Linked DNA regions of Homo sapiens. The protein of the gene in region 2 purifies or fractionates together with the protein of the main gene of each other region. This does not show direct contact. Each region holds a gene or a part of one and is shown on either strand. Other genes may lie near its edges.

What was found. The genes of interacting proteins can lie anywhere in the genome.
Region 1: the proteins of KCNQ3 (region 2) and SRXN1 purify together in Homo sapiens (affinity purification with mass spectrometry; one large-scale study listed by BioGRID and IntAct). This does not show direct contact.
Region 3: the proteins of KCNQ3 (region 2) and NAP1L4 purify together in Homo sapiens (affinity purification with mass spectrometry, with the first as the bait; one large-scale study listed by BioGRID). This does not show direct contact.
Region 4: the proteins of KCNQ3 (region 2) and CLPTM1 purify together in Homo sapiens (affinity purification with mass spectrometry, with the first as the bait; one large-scale study listed by BioGRID). This does not show direct contact.

Annotation. Positions count from the first base shown.
Region 1 is NC_000020.11:649,653-654,891, reverse strand, and holds the start of SRXN1 (sulfiredoxin-1), read left to right. Parts: upstream 1-1,691; 5' UTR 1,692-1,706; coding exon 1,707-1,916; exon of another isoform or gene 1,917-1,939; intron 1,940-5,239. UniProt on the Homo sapiens protein: Contributes to oxidative stress resistance by reducing cysteine-sulfinic acid formed under exposure to oxidants in the peroxiredoxins PRDX1, PRDX2, PRDX3 and PRDX4. Does not act on PRDX5 or PRDX6.
Region 2 is NC_000008.11:132,474,177-132,478,846, reverse strand, and holds part of KCNQ3 (potassium voltage-gated channel subfamily KQT member 3), read left to right. Parts: intron 1-4,670. UniProt on the Homo sapiens protein: Pore-forming subunit of the voltage-gated potassium (Kv) M-channel which is responsible for the M-current, a key controller of neuronal excitability. M-channel is composed of pore-forming subunits KCNQ2 and KCNQ3 assembled as heterotetramers.
Region 3 is NC_000011.10:2,981,582-2,986,251, reverse strand, and holds part of NAP1L4 (nucleosome assembly protein 1-like 4), read left to right. Parts: intron 1-4,670. UniProt on the Homo sapiens protein: Acts as a histone chaperone in nucleosome assembly.
Region 4 is NC_000019.10:44,971,958-44,976,627, reverse strand, and holds part of CLPTM1 (putative lipid scramblase CLPTM1), read right to left. Parts: intron 3,542-4,670; coding exon 3,418-3,541; intron 2,190-3,417; coding exon 2,031-2,189; intron 1-2,030. UniProt on the Homo sapiens protein: Involved in GABAergic but not glutamatergic transmission. Binds and traps GABAA receptors in the endoplasmic reticulum (ER).

The DNA of each region.
Region 1 (5,239 bases), on a different chromosome or scaffold from region 2:
AACTGGAGTCTTTGGTCACATTGTTCAACTGCCTCTTTACCAACCTTGGACATACCTACCTCCAAACATTTTATTATGTGAGAAAACAAACCTTCTTATTGCTTAAGCCATTTTGAATTGGGCCATAGATATCTTAACACAGAGAATTTGATACCAGGAAATGAGGCCTCCCTGGGTACACCATGATGATAGAATCAGGCCAGAGCTCCACTTTTCCACTCTAGAAACTGTTATCCTGCCATTCTTACTTCCTGTAATGAGGAAGATGTTTTAGAAGGGATAACTTCCCTCTTGATGAAATTCTCTAATTCTGAATAATTCTGGGGCTGAGGTGTGGGTGTCAGTTCTACTTCTTGAAATAAAGTATCATTTAGGTGCGCACGGGAATTATGTTTCGAAAGGGAAAGGCTGGAGTCTTGGTGTCAGTGTTCTAAGGTTTTGTGAGAGACTAAGAACCCAAAATAAATGATCTTCAACAGCAAAATGGATGTTATGCAATTCACAGAGCACTATGAGCACTCTCTCAATTCACACAACTTTGAGTGATGGGCAGCATGACTTCATTTTACAGACGGGGTTCAGAAAGTGTCAGCAACTGGTGGAAGGCAAAGTAGAAACTCCTGGCTCCCTCCTTCGTCTCCAGTTTTCTCCAGCTGGCAGGGTAAGTATGCATTTCTCCATGTTCGTGCCATTCAGGTTGAGAAGGAAGACAAGCAAACCAGACATGCTTGTCTTCGACCGAGTCTGGGATCGTCCACCTTCCTGCTTGGAGTTGGTGGTTAAGTGGCCCCACAGTTTGGACTCGTGTGACCTGACTTTCATTTCAGCTGACCTTGAACAGCGGGTCTATAACTGCACCTACTTCCAGTAGTGTTGTAATGACACAAACAGACAGTGTGGAACTTGAAGGCAGGGCCCACCCATTGTCAGCGCGACTCCTGAGGGCTCCGTGTGACAGTCACTGTTGCTGAACCAAGGCAGCCAACGGTGGGGTAGAAGGCGGACTCTGGAGCCAGACCGTCTGGATTTGAACGCGGATTCGGCCACTTACTAGTTCCGTGATCTTGGGTACATCACTTAAACCTGTGTCTCAGTCTCCTCTTCTGTAAAATGGGAATAACAGTCATACCTTCCTTGCAGGGTTGTTTTGAGGTTCAGATACGTTAATACACGTGCAAAATGTTCGGAACGACTCCAGACACAGCCGGCGCCAGACTGGAAGTGGAACCGCTGGTGGGGATCATAACCTCGCTGGCTAGGAACCCCAGCAGCGGGGCAGCAGCGCACCGCGGGCTTTGCCGACTCACCCTGGCTGGGCAGGTCCGCCGCGCTCTCCCCCGCCCCCGCCCCCGCGGCCTAAGTCGGCCCGGCCGGTGCGTCACCCGCGCCCCTCCCGCCCCGCGACCTGCAAACTCACCCTGAGTCAGCCCGCCCGGGCGTTTCCACTCCCCGGACGCCGCGCGGCGCAGGGGAGGCGAGAGGCGCCCCCCGGTGGAGAGCCTGAGCCCCGCGCGAGTCTGGCGGCACCTGGCGAGCGGAGCCGGAGTCGGGCTGGGGACCGCGGGGTCGAGGCCGGACCGCGGCGGGGTCGGGGGAGAAACGCGCGCTGCCCTGGCACGGGCCCCCCCCCCCGGCCGCGCGGAATGGTATGGCCCGGCCGGAGTTAAGGCCGGGGGGAGGCGGCGAGTCCCGCGGCGGCGGCGACGATGGGGCTGCGTGCAGGAGGAACGCTGGGCAGGGCCGGCGCGGGTCGGGGGGCGCCCGAGGGGCCCGGGCCGAGCGGCGGCGCGCAGGGCGGCAGCATCCACTCGGGCCGCATCGCCGCGGTGCACAACGTGCCGCTGAGCGTGCTCATCCGGCCGCTGCCGTCCGTGTTGGACCCCGCCAAGGTGCAGAGCCTCGTGGACACGATCCGGGTGAGGCCTCGGGGAGTCCAGCCAACCGGAGGGAGGGCTTCGGAGGAGGGAGGTTGCCGGAGGAGGGAGGTCGCTGCGATGGACGCGAGACGGACTGGTTCCGGGCCCAGCCGGAGCTCAGCCTCTGCTGTGTGACCTTGAGCAAGTAGCTGGGCCTCTCTGGGCCTCTGTTTCCTCACTTGAGCAAGGAGGGAATTGGGCGAGATAATTAAAGTAGTGATGATAACGCTTATAACGCTAGTGCTTGCAGTGGTCCAGGAACTGCAGGAAGTCCCTCAGTTTCCTATGCCAACCCTAGGAGGTAGATAGTGGCTCTTTTGCAGACGAGAACTGAGGCAGGGAAGATTTCAGCGGCTTGACTAAGATCAGGCGCTTAAAAAGTGACACGGCTGGAATTCACACCCAGGCAGCCTGGGCCCCACTGCCCAGCACATGGCCACCGCACTACCCGGAGATAAGCCGTGGGCTCTCATGGCTGTGACAGTCAGTGACAGTGGGACTAGGTGTGTCATATCTGCTGGGAGGCCCTTGTCTGAATGGGAAGTGGGAGAGGTCAAGGGTCAGCTCCACCACTGAGGAAGGGTGTTAAGAATACCGGAGTGATTCTGGCAGGAACTTGGGGGCCCCGCAAGAACAGGTGTCAGGTTAGGCCTACATAACGTTGTGTCCCCTTCCCCCGACCCTTGGAAGGTGAGCACATGAGATCCCTAAGCCCCACCCAGCACCTCTACAGCCACCCCCGATAACTTTCAGTCCTAGTATTTACACTAGTGTCCTCACTGCCTGGAGCCACTTCCCCAGACAACCACAGGGCCTGCTCCCCTGCCTGGTTCAGCTCTCTGCCTCCTTGATCACCCTTGGTCAGAGTCACTGGCCTCTCTAGCTCTCCCCTTAGCCCGAGATGTTTTTCAGGATACCACTTATGTCCACCAGAAATTATATTATACATCTATTTGTGTTGCATTTTATTTTCTGTCTTCCTGACCTCACGTGCACTCCACAAGGGCGAGGACCTCGTCCCATCTTATCTGTTGCCACAATAGTAGCACGGCGCCTGGCTGAGATGGGAAGGGATCTGCCATGCATGCCCTGTCCCACCACTGGGCTTTTTCTCCCGTTGAGAACCTCTTCTATCTCTGCCTTGTCGTTTCTCACTCTTTCTCGGTCTTCCTGTCTCAGTGTCAGGATCTTCCCTGACCATCCCTACCGGGTTAGGAGCTTCTGTGGGCCTGCAGCCACCTGTGTGCCCACCTGCATAGCTCTGATCTCACTGGCTTTTTTTTTTTTTTTTTAAGACGTTGTCTGGGTCTGTCACCCTGGCTGGAGTGCAGTGGCACGATCTTGGCTCACTGCAACCTCCGCCTCCCGGGTTCAAGCCATTCTCCTGCCTCAGCCTCCCAAGTAGCTGGGATTACAGGCGCCCACCACCACGCCTGGCTAATTTTTGTATTTTTAGTAGAGATGGGGTTTCACCCTGTTGGCCAGGCTGGTCTGAAACTCCAGACCTCAAGCGATCTGCCCACCTCGGCCTCCCAAAGTGCTGGGATTACAGCCCACTGGCTTTTAACGTCCTGTCTAGACACCTGCCTTCCGTGCTAGAACCGTAGGCTCTGAGGGCCAGAACCAGCTCTGCCTTTGCTTACATACACCTGTATTAGTTTTCTGGGGCCACTGTAAGTTACCACAAAGTTGATGGCTTAAAACAACACAGGTTTATTTATGGTCAGAAGTCCAAAATGGGTCTTACTGGGCTAACACCAAGCAGGGCTGCACTACTTTCTGTAGGCTCTAGGGGAGAATCCATTTCCTCGCCTTTCCCAGCTTCCAGACGCCACCCACACTGCTTGGCTTATGGCCTCTTCCTCTGTCTTCAAAGCCAGCAACATCAGGCCAAGGCCTTCTCACATCGCATCACTCTGACCTCTTCCTCTACTTCCTCTTCCAGTTTTAAGGACCCTGATAATGGCATTCGACCCATCTAGATAACCTTGGATAATTTCCGCATCTCAGGATCCTTACCTTAATTCTGTCTGCCAAGTCCCTTCTCCCATGTAAGGTAACACATTCAGAAGCATTCGGGCGTGGACATCTTTGGGAGCCATCATTCTGGCCATCCACCATCGTGCCTCCAGTACCCGGCACAAGGCCTGCCTGGCACGGCTGCCCTCCTTAGTGCTCCACTAATGCCCGGTAGGCATCAGCTCACTGACTCTTCATCAGCAGCCCTCTAGGATGTTTTATTCCCAGTTTACAGGTGAGGAATGGTGTTCAGAGGGCTGTGTGCCCCAGCTGCTGTGGAGAGGAGCTGAGATCCAAAGTCAGGTGTGCCAGGTTCCAGAGCTCAGGCTTGTGACTGCTGCACCTTACTGCTGAATAATCATTTGTGGAATCATGAGAGAGAACCCGTGGACCAGCAGCAGGAGGCCTTCCACGCCGCTCACACTTAATGGGGTCTCCCCAGAGTGCTCTACCCTGCACCCGTCCTGCCCCAGACTTTCCCTGTTTAGAGGATGACCTACTCTCCACCTGGCTGTGTGGGCCCCTAACAGGAAGTCAACTTAGATTCTCCCTTTTCTCTTGCCCTTGGATTCACCCCTTCTGCCAGACCCCTTGGGCCTGCCCCGTAAATGTGTCCCAAACCTGTCTACCTCTCCCTGTCCCCACCACACCATCATCCAGACCAGCATCTTCTGCTGAATACCTGCAGAGGCCTCCCCTCTGCCTTCCAGCCCTGTGCCCTGTCCACCCTGCCAAGTCTGTTCTCCTGTGACAACTTTCTAGAACATGCATCAGATCATGTCACCCTCCCCTGTTGCCAACACTCCAGGGCCCACCCACTGCTCTCAGAAGCAGACCTGCACCATCTGGCTCCTGCTGGCCTTTCTGACCATTCCTGGAGCCCTGGAGTCCACTCTAGTGAACTCCTTGCTGTGCCTCCTACACAGTGAACGTGCTCTGGTTTCAAGTCCTTTGCGTTTGCTGTTCCCTTTGCATGGAACGTTCTTCCCTCAGGTCATACACAGCATACATTACTGAGCACTTTCCGTGTGCCAAGCATGGTTTGAAGTGCTTTATATATATTAACCCATTTAACCCAAAAATTCTATGAGATGGATCTGTTATCTCCATCCAATTTGATAGATGGGGCAACTGAGGCACAAAAAGATGAATTGCCCAAGATCACATAGCTGTTAAGCAGCAGAGCTAGATTTGAACCCAGGCAGTTGAGCTCTTAATCGAAACTATTCCACTTCTCTCTTTTTTTTTTTTTTTTGAGATGGATTCTCGTTCCATCGCCGAGGCTGGAGTGCAATGGTGCGATC
Region 2 (4,670 bases):
AGACGTTTTTCTAGGTTCGGCCACCAGGTGGGGGCGTCCACACAGGACCTCAGACTTAGCAACAGGTTTCTTCAAGGAGGTTACCAAGCCCGGAGAGGGTGCCTTCCCGGAAACTAAGGAACCAGCAGGAAGGGTGGGGTGGGAGTGGGGCATTTTCCCAGAAACGTGGATGTTGGTGTCTGTATGAGTGTGCGTGTGTATGTGTGTGTGTGTGTGTCTATTTGCAGGTGTTGGTCGGGGTCTGGTTGGAGAGACGGCTTAACAATTGTTGCTCTTTCATTTGCTCTTTTTAGGTGGCCGAAAAAAAAGCATTAAAATACATTCCTCTCTCTGTCTCTAGCAATATGTTTAGTTAAATTGAAGTGAATACTGAAATATGTGATAGTTAAAAAAGGCACAAGAAGTTCGTTGAGTGCACACAGTCATACAATGATTCACGTGTCCTTTCACATGCACATCGCGTTCAGTACGTACTGACTGAAAAACCTGGGGGTCCTATGGAAGCATGTGGGCTCCCTCTTTCTTCTCTTCCCACCTTTCCCAGCCAGCACCTCCAGCCCTGCCTTGTCCAGTCTGGGGAAGGGAATAGCTAAAGCTGTTACTGACTGAGCCTCAATTTTATTTTTTTCTAGAATTATTGCATCACCTGGAAGCAGATTTGATAATGCCAAAACCTGGAGCCTGTTTCCCAAAAAGGATCCAGGAAAATTTAAGACTTTGTGAGAAGAAAGTCAGTTACCTAGCTAGGAACTATATATGCAAATGCATATATATGCAAATATGCAAATGTACTAATTTTATTTAATCCTCACACAGTACTATTAGATGGAAATTATTATCTCCGTTATATAAAGATATGAAAACCTCAAGAGAGAAAATCACTTGTCCGCGATCACACAGCTAAGGTTCCTGGAGCTCGCATTTGAATGCAGTGGGTTCACTCTGTTTCTGAGCCAAGATTCCAGTTCTGATGCTCTTCCAACAATTGTGGGACCCTGGGTATTTTGCTGAGCGTCACTGGGTGCCCCTTTCCCCATTGTTAATGCAGGGCCATGAGTAATTCCTTGGCCTCCCCTTGCTAGCTCTCAGATGGCAAATTGCTAGAAATGAGAGTTTAGAATCAAGTTGGGGGCTGGTCAGAACTCAGGAAGCCACAGTGTTAGGAAAATTGAGGATGAACTGGGGTGGTGGTGGGATTGCGGATTCTGATAAATTGGGAGCTACACAGGAAAACCTGTGTTGAATTCCCATTGAGCTCCTAATATTGAAGCATACTTACTTAGTACATGCATAGTACATTCTCCCTGCAGCTTAGGAGACAGTCCAGTCAAGTGAACATAATTGAACCTTTCCTTGATGATTCAGGATTTTGCATTGAAATTTATGTTTTCAAGCATCCATTATCTTGTTCTGGGCTGTGGCTAATGGCACAATGGGCCCAGGAAATTGGGCTTACCATAGGCCTACAATCTAGTGGATGCTTTTTTTTTTTTTTTAAATTAAAATGAACCAGGTCCATGATGAGATTATTTTTTTTCTCCTTCCTAAAGGTAGAATACAGGAAATATGGAAATCAATCAAACCCTTACCTTGTTTCTTTTGCCTCAAATGCTGTATTAGTCTGTTTTCACAGTGCTATAAAGAAATACCTGAGACTGGGTAATATATAAAGGAAAGAAGTTTAATTGTTTCACAGTTCTGCGTGGCTGGCGGAGGTGGGAAGGGGTGGTCTCAGGAAACTTACAATCATGGAAGAAGGCAAAGGGGAAGAGGAAGCCAGGCACATCTTACATGGTGGCAGGAAAAAGAGAACAAAGGGGAAGAGCCACACACTTATCAAACAACCAGATCTCCTGAAACTTCTATCAGGAGAAGAGCAAGGGGAAAATATGCCCACATGATTCAGTCACCTCCCACCAGGCGACTCCCACAATATGTGGGTATTATAATTTGAGACGAGAGTTGGGTGGGGACACAGAGCGAAAACATATCATTCTGCCCCTGCTTCCTCCCAAATCTCATGTCCTTTTCATATTTCAAAACCAATCATGCCTTCCCAACAGCACCCTAAGGTCTTAACTCATTCCAGCATTAACTCAAAAGTCTAAGTCCAAAGTCTCATCTGAGACAAGCAAGTTGCTCCTGCCAATGAACCTGTAAAATAAAAAAAAAGTTTGTTACTTCCAAGATACAATGGGAGTATAGGCATTGGGTAAATGTTTCCATTGCAAACGGGAGAAATTGGCCAAAACAAATGGGCCACAGGCCCCATGCAAGTCTGTAACCCAGCAGGGCATGCATTAAAAAAGCTCCAAAATAATGTCCTTTGATTCCATGTCTCACATCCAGGCCACCCTAATGCAAGGCTTGGGCTTCCATGGCCTTGGGCAGCTCCACCCTTGTGACTCTACAGGGTTCAACTCCTGTGGCTGCTTCCATGGGCTGGCATTGAGTACCTGTGGCTTTTCCAGGCACACAGTGCAAGCTGTCTGTGGATCTACCATTCTGGGGTCTGGAGGACGGTGGCCCTCTTCTCACAGTCCAACTAGGCAGTGTCCCATTGGGGATTCTGTGTGGGGGTTCCAACCTCACATTTCCTCTTGCACTGCCCTCACAGAGGTTCTCTATGAGAGCTTCACTCCTGCAGCAGACTCCTGCCTGGACATCCAGGTGTTTCCATACCTCCTCTGAAATCTAGGTGGAGGTTCCCAAAGCCTAACTCTTGTCTTCTGTGCACCCACAGGCCCAACACCACACAGAAGCCACCAAGGCTCAGTGCTTGCACACTCTGAAGCAATGGGCTGAGCTGTACCTTGCTCCCTTTTAGCCATGGCTGGAACTGGAGCGGCTGGGACACAGGGCACCAAGTCCAGCAGCTTCACAGAGCAGTGGGGCCCTGGGCCTGGCCCAGGAAACCATTTTTCCCCCCTAGGCCTCTGGGCCTGTGATTGGAGGGGCTGCCACAAAATTCTCTGATGTGCCCTGGAGACATTTTCCCTGTTGTCTTGGCTATTAACATTCAACTCCTCATTACTTATGCATATTTCTGCAGCTGGCTTGAATTCCTCCGCAGAAAATGGGTTTTTCTTTTCTACCACATGGTCAGGCTACAAGTTTTCTAAATCCTTATGCTCTGCTTTCCTTACCAATATCAGTTCCAATTTCAGACCATCCCTTTGTGAACGCACATAACTGAATGTTTTCAGAATAAGCCAGGTTAACTCTTGAATGCTTTGCTGCTTAGAAATTTCTTCCACCAGATACCCTAAATCATCCTCTGAAGTTCAAAGTTCCACAGATCTTTAGGGCAGGTGCAAAATGCTACCAGTCTCTGACAGAGCATACCATAAGTGTCCTTTACCCCAGTTCCCAATAAGTTCCTCATCTCCATCTGAGACCACCTCAGCCTGGACTTCATTGTCCATATCACTGTCAGCATTTTGGTCAAAACCATTCAGTAAGTCACTGGGAAGTTCCAAACCTTCCCACAATTTCTGATCTTCTTCTGAGCCCTCTAGACTGTCCCAACCTCTGCCCATTACCCAGTTCCAAAGTCTCTTCCATACTTGCAAGTATCTTTATGGGAGTGCCCCAAACTCCAGGCACCAATTTCCTGTATTAGTCCATTTTCACACTGCTATAAAGAAATACCTGAGACTGGGTAATTTATAAAGGAAAGAGGTTTAGTTGACTCACAGTTCTGCATGGCTGGGGAAGTCTCAGGAAACCTACAATCGTGGCAGAAGGGGAAGCAGGAATGTCTTACGTGGTGCCAGGAGAGAGCGCAAGAGTGAAGGGGAAGAGTCACACACTTATCAAACAACTGGATCTTATGAGAATTCTATCACGACAAGAGCAAGGGGGAAATCCACCCCCATGATTCAGTCACCTACCACCAGGCCACTCTGGAAACATGTGGGGATTACAATTTGAGATGAGTTTTGGATGGGGACACAGAGACAAACCATATCAAATGCCCATCCCCTGCTTTCACTTGGTGACTCCCCTTCACCTTGGCCCAGCTTCCCCAGGCATAGAATTTTGTACCTCGCATTTGATTGATCTCTGCTTGTCTGCCCTGTTGAGCTGAGAGCTACTTGAGAGTGGGAGCTGCTTATTCTCCTGTAACCTTACCACTCCACAGCAGGCTGCAGAGTGCATGGTAGGTACTAAGTAAGCATTTGCTGAATGGATGCATGTGAGAATTCTGTAAGGGTTCTGGTTAATCAAGACTTTGCTGCAATAGCTTTACTACTATCCCAGTAACAGTAAGTAGTCAAAGCCAGCATTACAGGACTTTAATTATAAGAATAGTTCTTAGAAGTCCAAAAATGGACTATGGGAGAGAAAACAAGATTGGAGACCATGCTTTAACTTGAGTGAGGGTGATCACTTCTCTAGTTTTTTTAACCTTATGGCTGAAAGAGATTCTGATTTTATGAAAAACATGCTAGACTTGGAGTTCACATCTGGACTGCTTTGTGTCTCTGTGACTGCAGGAGTCAAGTTGGGGATGACCTATAAATTGAGGATGATTACACTACCCTATCACAGGGTGGTTTTTAGTCTCAAAGAATAGTATATATGAATGCAGTTAGCCCAACACTAGGCACTCAGTATACATTAGTTAATTCTGAATAGGGATCTCCTTAAAAGTCATACATACCTGA
Region 3 (4,670 bases), on a different chromosome or scaffold from region 2:
CAGGCGTGTGCCACCATGCCCAGCTGATTTTTGTATTTTTAATGGAGATGGAATTTCACCACGTTGGCCAGGCTGACCTCGAACTCCCGACCTCATGTGATCCGCCCGCCTTGGTCTCCCAAAGTGCTGGGATTACAGGCGTGAGCCACCGTGCCTGGCCATGGCCCAATTTTATAGTTACTCTAGCTATGGAGTAGATGTTTTCAGTTCAAAATTAGGAATTTAAGGTTATATTTTGTTACAAAAATCTTTAAAAATTTCATAAGAAAACAGTTGTTTGGGGTACAAAGAAATTAATCCATAAATAGGATTGTTACAGTGACTAATATAAATAAAAGAACATTTGTGTAATCATGGGAATTATTTTATTTTATTTTTCCTCGACCCAATTAACTGGGTGAAAATTTGCTTGCCAGTTCAGATTTAGAATTGTAGACACAGTTAAAGTTTTTGACCTTGGGAGGGAACCTGAACTTTAGAAAACTTACAACATTCTTTTGCCTGGTATCCCTTTCATAATTTAACTTGATTGTCTTTTATTTATTTTTAGTTATTATTTATTAACACAAAATTATATTTATGATGTATAATGCGATGTTTTGAAGTACTATACATTGTGGAATGGCTAAGTCAAGTTAATTCACATTAGGTGGTATACTGATTCTGACAAGAACACTTAACATCTACTCTCAGCAATTTTTCAATTATGTGATACATTGTTGTTAACTATAGTCACCAGGTTGTATAGATCCCTTGATTGCCTTTTAAAAGTGAGAGAACCTTCTGGATGAGTCTTCGGGCTGTGGTTTTATAAGACTAGTATTAAACTGAACATAACATTTAAAACAAACAGATATTTATTTTCCTCAAACCTGTATATTTGATAGTTCCTTATAACTTTCTGTTTTAAGGGTGATAGGGATTGATAAACAAAAATAATTTGTGGTGCTGAAACTTGACTGAACTCTAGCTTGTTTATAATACCACCTCTCTACATTGTCTTTCCTTATTCAGGTTGAGCACTCCTGATCCCAAAATCAAAAATCCAAATGCTCCAAATTCTGAAACTCCGTTAGTGTTGACATTAATGTTACAAGTGGAAAATTTCACACCTGACTTCACGTGATGGATCACAGTTAAAACTTTGTTTCATGCACAAAATTATTTAAAATATTGTATAAAATTACCTTCAGTCTATGTGAATAAGATGTGTGGGAAACGTGAATGAATTTCATGTTTAGATTTGGGTCCCATCCCCAAGATACCTGATCATGTTTATACAAATATTCTAAAATCTGAAACACTTCTGGTCCCAAGCATTTCAGATAAGAGATACTCAACCTGTATAAAGGGTGCAGTGTTTAAAGTAACTTGATTTGTTGGTTTCATATCAAGGAATAGATGTAGTCTATATGCATGGCAGTTACAAAAGTGAAAAGAGACCTGGCCTGCTGTTATGTACTAGGAAATTTGTCTCCATTAACAGTTTCTCAGGTAGCCACTGTCTTCTAGTTTGTGGATGATGAAACTGAGGTCCAGAGGAAGGTTATGCAGAAGAGCATGAGTGGGAATGAGTATGGGGAAGTAGACAGGGCCTGAATTGGTAGGAATGTGTATTCTGCAGAAGGTGACGGGGGACCATTGAAGTGTGTTTGTTAGTTTTTTGTTTGTTTGTTTTTTGAGACAGAGTTTCGCTCTTGTTGCCCAGGCTGGAGTGCAATGGCGAGATCTCGGCTCACTGCAACTTCCGCCTCCTGGGTTCAAGAGATTCTCCTGCCTCAGCCTCCTGAGTAGCTGAGATTACAGGCATGCGCCACCATGCCCGGCTAATTTTGTATTCTTAGTAGAGACGGGTTTCTCCGTGTTGGTCAGGCTGGTCTCGAACTCCTGACCTCAGATGATCCGCTCGCCTCGGCCTCCCAAAGTACTGGGATTACAGGTGGGAGCCACCACACCTGGCCTTTGTTAAAGGGTTTTTAAATCTTCACTGACTAGGGCTGGGTTTGGGTTGCTGCTGTGGTCGTGGTGGTGAGCATAGCCAGCCATTGTAGGGTTTGTTGCCTTTTTTTTTTTTTTTTTTTTTTTGAGGCAGGGTCTTGCTCTGTTGTCCAGGCTGGAGTTCAGTGGCGCAGTGATAGCTCACTGCAGCCGCCAGGCCTCCAACTCCTGGGCTTGAGTGTTGCTTCTGTCTCAGCCACTCAAGTAGCTGGGACCAGAGGCATCAACCACTGTGTCCAGCCTCATTTTTTTTTTTTTTCTTTTTGTTTTGAGACAGTCTCACTCTGTCTCCCAGGCGGGAGTGCAGTGGTGTTATTTCAGCTTACTGCAACCTCTGCCTCCTGTGCTCAAGCGATTCTCCTGCCTCAGCCTCCTGAATTGGGACTACAGGTTCACACCACCATGCCTGGCTAATTTTGTTTTTTTTGTTGTTTTTGTAGAGACGAGGTTTCCCCATGTTGCCCAGGCTGGTCTGAAACTCCTGAGCTTCAGGTGATCTGTGATAGGGGTAGGATTTGAAACCAGGCTGTTCAGTGTGTGTCTGTCTTGTTCTAGGCATTGAGTTCTGGGTTGGTTGGTTCTTTAGTCAAAATTATTTTCTTTTTTATTGTGTAAATTCATTATTTTTTTTCTATCCTTGATTTAGCACTTTTTTTTTTTTCCAGAATACCGTGTTGGGTTTAACTTAACTGCCTTGTCATCTTGTTAACAAAAATTGTATTAAACAGCACATGCCGGGCTGGGCATGGTGCCTCTGTCCTATAATCCCAGCACTTTGAGAGGCTAAGGTGGGAGGATCACTTGAGGCTAGGAGTTTGAGACTGCAGTGAGCTATGATCCTGCCACTGCACTCTAGCCTGGGTAACAGAGTGAGACTGTGTGTCTCTTTAAAAAAGCACAGCCTTCACTTAAATGAAAATTGAGTGAATCATTTTATCAATGGACTCTGTTAAGTTGGAACAGGTACCATTCCATGGGAAGGTGAACCTCTTTGGCTCATGTCCTAACACAGGTGGTTTATGCTTTCAACAGATATTTATTATGCCAGGAACTGTTAGGGGCTCTGGGGCTGCATAGTGAACAGCATCAAAAGGGAGTATTGTCACACTCCATTTGTAGACAAAATGGATTTCTTGGAGATGCTGCTGAACAGTAGGATTTCAACCCTGACTAAGCTGTTGCTTGTCACTTGTTCCAATAGCAGCAACAGGTTTTTTGTTTTTTGTTTTTTTTTGAGATGGAGTCTTGCTGTGTTGCCCAGGCTGGAGTGCAGTGGTGCAATCTTTGCTCACTGCAAACTCCGCCTCCTGGGTTCAAGCAGTTCTCCTGCTTCAGCCTCCCAGTTGCTGGGATTACAGGCGAGTGCCACCATGCCCAGCTAATTTTTGTATTTTTAGTAGAGACGGGGTTTTACCATGTTGGCCAGGCTGGTCTTGAACTCCTCACGTCGTGATCTGCCCGCCTTGGCCTCCCAAAGTGCTGGGATTACAGGTGTTAGCCCCCAGGCCCAGCCTAGCAGCAACAGAATCTTTAATGAGCAAGTAGAAACAGCCAGAAGTGAAGTGGTGTTGGTACTAGGGAAAGGTTAGAAGGAGTCAGATTTGAAACACGAATGCATGTTTTACTAGCCGTGTGACTTTCAATTTGGCACCTCACCTTTCCAAGCCTCAGCTTCTTTTCGTGTAAACTGAGGATAGTCCCTCCCTAGTGGAGTTTCTCTTGGTATTAAATGTATGAAGTGCCTGACATGTAGGTCCCTTGCTAGTATAGGAGGTGCTGGAAATGAAGTATGTGTCTTTACGAGGTGTTACTGATAGGGTGATGACAACAAGAATCTGTCCATTAAACTGACAGTGTTAGATGTTTCCAGGTTAGTAGGCTTCTTTCAGCAATTAGTGTGTATGTGTGGGGTAAGGAAGGTGCTATGAGATACATTTCTTAGGCAATAGAGAGCTTCAATTAAGTAGCCAAATTACAGTTGATGTTATTGTGTAACTGTTTTGGCAGTATGTATCAGAATCCATTCATGCTCTTTGACCCAGAAATGCTACTGTAGCGGTCCTGCTATTGCCATATCAATTAAGGATAACTGGGAGTGGGAAGCCATATAAGCCAAGATGTTCATAGAGACATTATCAAAGGTATATAACAGAAAAAAACACCTCATTCTTTAACAGCTGGTAAGTGGTGTTTTAGCTCTTAGAATGTTGTCCTTAAACAATTGTTATGAAGTCTGACTGTCTCACACCTTGCATTTAGAATATGTGAGAAGGGAACTAACCTCAGGAATACTGTGATTGCAGCAAACATGGTGGAGGAGCGTGAGTGGGAATGAGTGTGGGGAGGTAGACAGGGCCTGAATCAGTAGGAATGTGTATTCTGCAGAAGGTGACGGGGGACCATTGAAGGGTGTTTTGTTTGTTTTTGAGACGGAGTTTTGCTCTTGTTGCCCAGGCTGGAGTGCAGTGGCTTGATCTTGGCTCACGGCAACCTCTGCCTCCTGTATTCAAGCGATTCTCCTGCCTCAGCCTCCCGAGTAGCTGGGATTACAGGCGTGTGCCACCATGCCCGGCTAATTTTGTATTTTTAGTAGAGACGGGTTTCTCCATGTTGGTCAGGCTGGTCTCGAACTCCCCACTTCAGGTGATCCGCCCACCTCAGCCTCCGAAAGT
Region 4 (4,670 bases), on a different chromosome or scaffold from region 2:
TCAAGAAGGGAGGCAAGTTGTCCAGGGGCACTGGGTGGAGACAAAGGCGAGCACTGAACCTCTCTGATCCTTGTGCAGAGCTCGAATTCAGTTGGCCACATTGTGTTCTCCTCACTCTCCCTATCTTTTTTAGAGATGGGGTCTTCCTGTGTTGCCCAGGCTGGAGTGCACTGGCTATTTGCAGTTGCGATCATGGCACACTACAGTCTTAAACTCCTGGGCTCTGGCCATTCTCCCACCTCAGCCTCCTGAGTAGCTGTGCCTACAGGCACATGCCACTGTGCCCAGCTCTCCTGCCTTTTAAGTCCACTTGGACCCCACCCTGAAGCTTCGACTTAGATCCAAGCCCTTGGAAGCAGATCCCCCTGCTGGGCCTGCCAGGCCCTGGTCCTTCCTTGGATCTCGTGGCAAGGCCTGGGGGCTGGGCTTGAGGTCTCTGTGGGAGTCACCTCTCAGTGCAGGTCAGAAAGTCCAGCCAGGTGGGGTGGTTCATGCCTGTAATTCCAGCACTTTGAGAGGCTGAGGTGAGAGGATCGCTTGAGCAGAGGAGTTTGAGACCAGCCTGGGAAACATGTTGAGACCCCATCTCTACAAAAAATTAGCTGGGCATGGTGGTGCATGCCTGTTGTCCCAGCTACTTGGGAGGCTGAGGTGAAAAGATTGCTTGAGCCCAGGAGGTTGAGGCTGCAGTGAGCTGTAATTGCACCACTGCACTTCAGCCTAGGCAACAGAGCAAGACCCCATCTCAAAAAGAAAAGAATGATGGCTGGACGCGGTGTCTCACGCCTGTAATCCCAGCACTTTGGGAGACCAAGGTAGGTGGATCACTTGAGGTCAGGAGTTCAAGGCCAACCTGGCCAACATAGTGAAACCTTGTCTCTACTAAAAAATAAAAAAATTAGCTGGGTGTGATCATGTGTGCCTTAGTCCCAGCTACTCAGGAGGCTGGCACATGAGAATCGCTTGAACCTGGGAGGTGAAGTTGCAGTGAGCCAAGGTTGCGCCACTGCCCTCCAGACTGGGTGACAGAGCGAGACGCTGTCTCAAAAAAAAACAAAAAACAAAAAAAAAAACCAGAATGACTGTGTCCACATTCTGCTTCTAGCTACCCAGACAGAAATAGAACAGAAATGTGCCCTCCACCCCAAAGCTGAGAAGGCCTGCTGGGGAGAAAGGAATGAGGGCAGCTGTCTTGGACTCAGCCGAAGAAGGCCCCAAAGAGAGATGTCCCTTTTACTTGTTCAATACTTGCTGATTCTGCACCCAGCCCCACGTTGGGCAGTGCTGGGGACATGGAAGTGATCTAGGCAGCCCCAGCCTTATTATCACAAGGCTCACAGTCCCATACAGGAGTCCCAATGAGGCCCCAGAATGGGCTGGGATGGGGAAGCCCAGCAGGTGTGAGAACCCAGAGAGGGTGCTTAACCAAGCCTGAGTGCTCTGTGAGTCAGGGAGGGCTTCCTGGAGGAGGTTGGATTTGAGCCTAGGGCTGCGAGAGTCCACAGCCGTAGAGCCTGAGTCTGAATCTCTCATGCGATGTGGCCTTGGGTAAATCACTTTCCTTCTCTCTCAGTTTCCTCACATGTTAAATGAGAATAATAACAGTTCCTGCTTCACAGGGTTGCCGGGAAATTTCCATGAGTCAGCCTAGCTTAGTACCCTGCACTTAGCTCAATCAACATTAACTAATATTATTTTGAAACGGGGCTGCCTGATAAACTGGTGATAGGCAAACATCCCCAAGGACAATTACTAATCTTTCACCAGTTTAAAGTGGAGGACTGCACAACCTTAGAGGTAGCTGGGAGGGTCCCAGGCCAATTCCACCCCTATCTACCTTTTTCAGGTAGGGGAAAGTGAAGCCCAGAGATCTCAGGGACTGGCTTGTGGTCACAGACCATGTGAGCCCAGGGAAGGGCCAAGCCTGGAGCCCAAACTCCACATGCTCTCAGCAAGGAGCGGACTGGAGGAAAAGGTCCTTCAGTGCCAGTCAAGCAGCCATGGGGCCAGAAACCGAGAGCTGCCCCCACCTGTGGGATATCGAGCTCAGCAAAGTGCTCGTAGCAGCCGTCTGAGTTCTCGCCGCTAGTCCAGTCGCCATACACAAGATCGTGCTGTTCCCAGAAGAGTGCCGACGTGGCGTTGAAGTCTGTAAAGTGCTCGTGCTCTGAGATGTACACATGCAGGTTCTGTTGGGACAGGAAGGGAACAGAGCTCAGGCCTGCTCTTCAGAGCCTCTGCAGGCTGGCTAAAGAGCTATGGCAGCGGTCAGCACACTCAGGGGAACAGTAATTATGGAGGACAGGGGAGAGGAGAGAGGAAGAGCAGCAGAGAGGACATATTTTCTCTTTTCTCATACCACCATGTTTGTCCTGGTCTGAGCCTGTGAAGTCAACGAACAAAGAACACTTGGAGACTGGCCAGCCTGCCAATTAGAATTTAGGGGTAGGAAGGGGCAGGAGCTCCCTGAATGATCTCCTGCCCTCATGGCTGCTGGGCCTTCCTGGTCAGAGCTCTGCAGGCTTATGGACGAAGCAGTCCAGAGCTACAAAAGCACTGTGAGCCACCGGGCACGGTGGCTCATGCCTGTGATCCCAGCACGTTGGGAGGCCAAGGCGGGTAGACCACTTGAGGTCAGGAGTTCGAGACCAGCGTACCAAAAAGGTAAAACCCCATCTCTACTAAAAATACAAAAAATTAGCTGGACGTGGTGGCACATGCCTGTAATCCCAGCTAGTCGTGAGGCTGAGGCAGGAGGATCACTGGAGCCCGGGAGGCAGAGGTTGCAGTGAGCTAAGATTATGCCACTGCACTCTAGCCTGGGCGACAGAGTGAGACTCCATCTCAAAAAAAAAAAAAAAAAAAACCCACTGTGACCCAACAAGAACTTCCTCCTTTCTCAAGCCCCAATGGCCATGTTTGCTCAGAAAAGCCTAGACTGACAGATCTAAATGCTTTTGCTCTGGAGGCTCCTGAAGCCCTGCCCTGCCTGTGCCCAAGCCCACTGTGGAAGTGCAGGTCTCCTCTCCTTCCGGGCCCACCTCCTGTCAGCCTCTGCTGGCTCCCTGCCCTCCCCACCTCTCACACTCTCTCCCTTGCACATCTCCCTCTGCAACCCTGAAAGGCTGAACATACTTTTGAAATATAACATCCAAAGACCCTGATTTAACCTATTTTAACCAAATGAATTTGCTTTTTCTTTTGGGTGACACAGGTTTTATGTGCTGGGGATGGACCCAGGTGACAGAGGTCTCACGTGTTGGGGATGGGCCCAGAGTTCCTCAACCCTGGACCTGTTTTCCTAGACCTGCCAGTGAGCAAGGACCTGGTCTGTCCCGACTGCTGACATCACTCCTCCACATTCCACCCCTCCACACCCCATCACCTCCCAAGTCTGCCCTACCACCCGGCAGTTACCATTAAAGTGTCTTTGGGGAACAGGTTGCGGCTGGCGACGCGTGGAGCTCCTCCGGGGCCCGCCTGGTCCTGAGGGGCCGGCCCTCGGCGGAACCAACTGCTGATGGCCCAGATGATGAAGATCCTGAGGAGAGAAGCAGCAAGGTGGTGAGTCCCCAAGCCTTGGCTCTCCGCCATAGACCCGCCTGACTTCCTTCTGACTTAGCACATGCTGGCGCCTGACCTGGGGCTAGTGACCAAGTCAGGGAGGCCCTGAGAAGGTAGTCACAGGGCTGGCAAGGAGATAAGATGTCCCTAAAGACCACATCTGGGGAGGGAGCCCAGATGCCACCGTTTGCCAGTGTGTGGGGGTAGCTGGCACTGCCCTGGTCTGCATGCAGACCCTTGACTCTAAATCCTGCAGGAGCTCCTGGTGACCACAGGGCTGCAGGGGCTGACTCTTGACTCAGACTGGGAAACCTGCCATCCAGCCCCCTGGGATCCCCCGAGAGGAGACTAAGAATCTGGAACCCCTTCAGTGTGCAGATGGATGAATTAAAAGAAAAAAGAAATAAAGAAAAAATAATAAACATAAAATTTTTAAAAGAAAGAATCTGGAATCCTAGCGCTTCAAAAGCACAGAACCGGGGATGGTTAATGGCTACAAAAAATAGAATGAACGAGGACGGGCGCGGCGGCTCATGCCTGTAATCCCAGCACTTTGGGAGGCCAAGGCGGGCGGATCACGAGGTCAGGAGATTGAGACCATCCTGGCTAACATGGTGAAACCCTGTCTCTACTAAAAAATACAAAAAAATTAGCTGGGCATGGTGGCGGGCGCCTGTAGTCCCAGCTACTCCGGAGGCTGAGGCAGGAGAATGGTGTGAACCCAGGAGGCAGAGGTTGCAGTGAGCCAAGATCGCGCCACTGCACTCCAGCCTGGGCAACAGAGCGAGACTCCATCTCAAAAAAAAAAAGAATGAATGAGATCTAGTATTTGGTAGCAAAACACGGCAACTCTAGTCAATAGTAATTTAATTACACATTTTAAAATAACTTAAGAAGTATAGAGGCCAGGCACAGTGGCTCATGCCTGTAACTTTGGGAGGCTGAAGTGGGCAAATCACGAGGTCAAGAAATCGAGATCATCGTGGCCAACATGGTGAAACCCTGTCTCTACTAAAAATACAAAAATTAACTGGGCCTGGTGGTGCGTGCCTCTAGTCCCATCTACTTGGGAGGCTGAGGCAGGAGAATCACTTGAACCCGGGAGG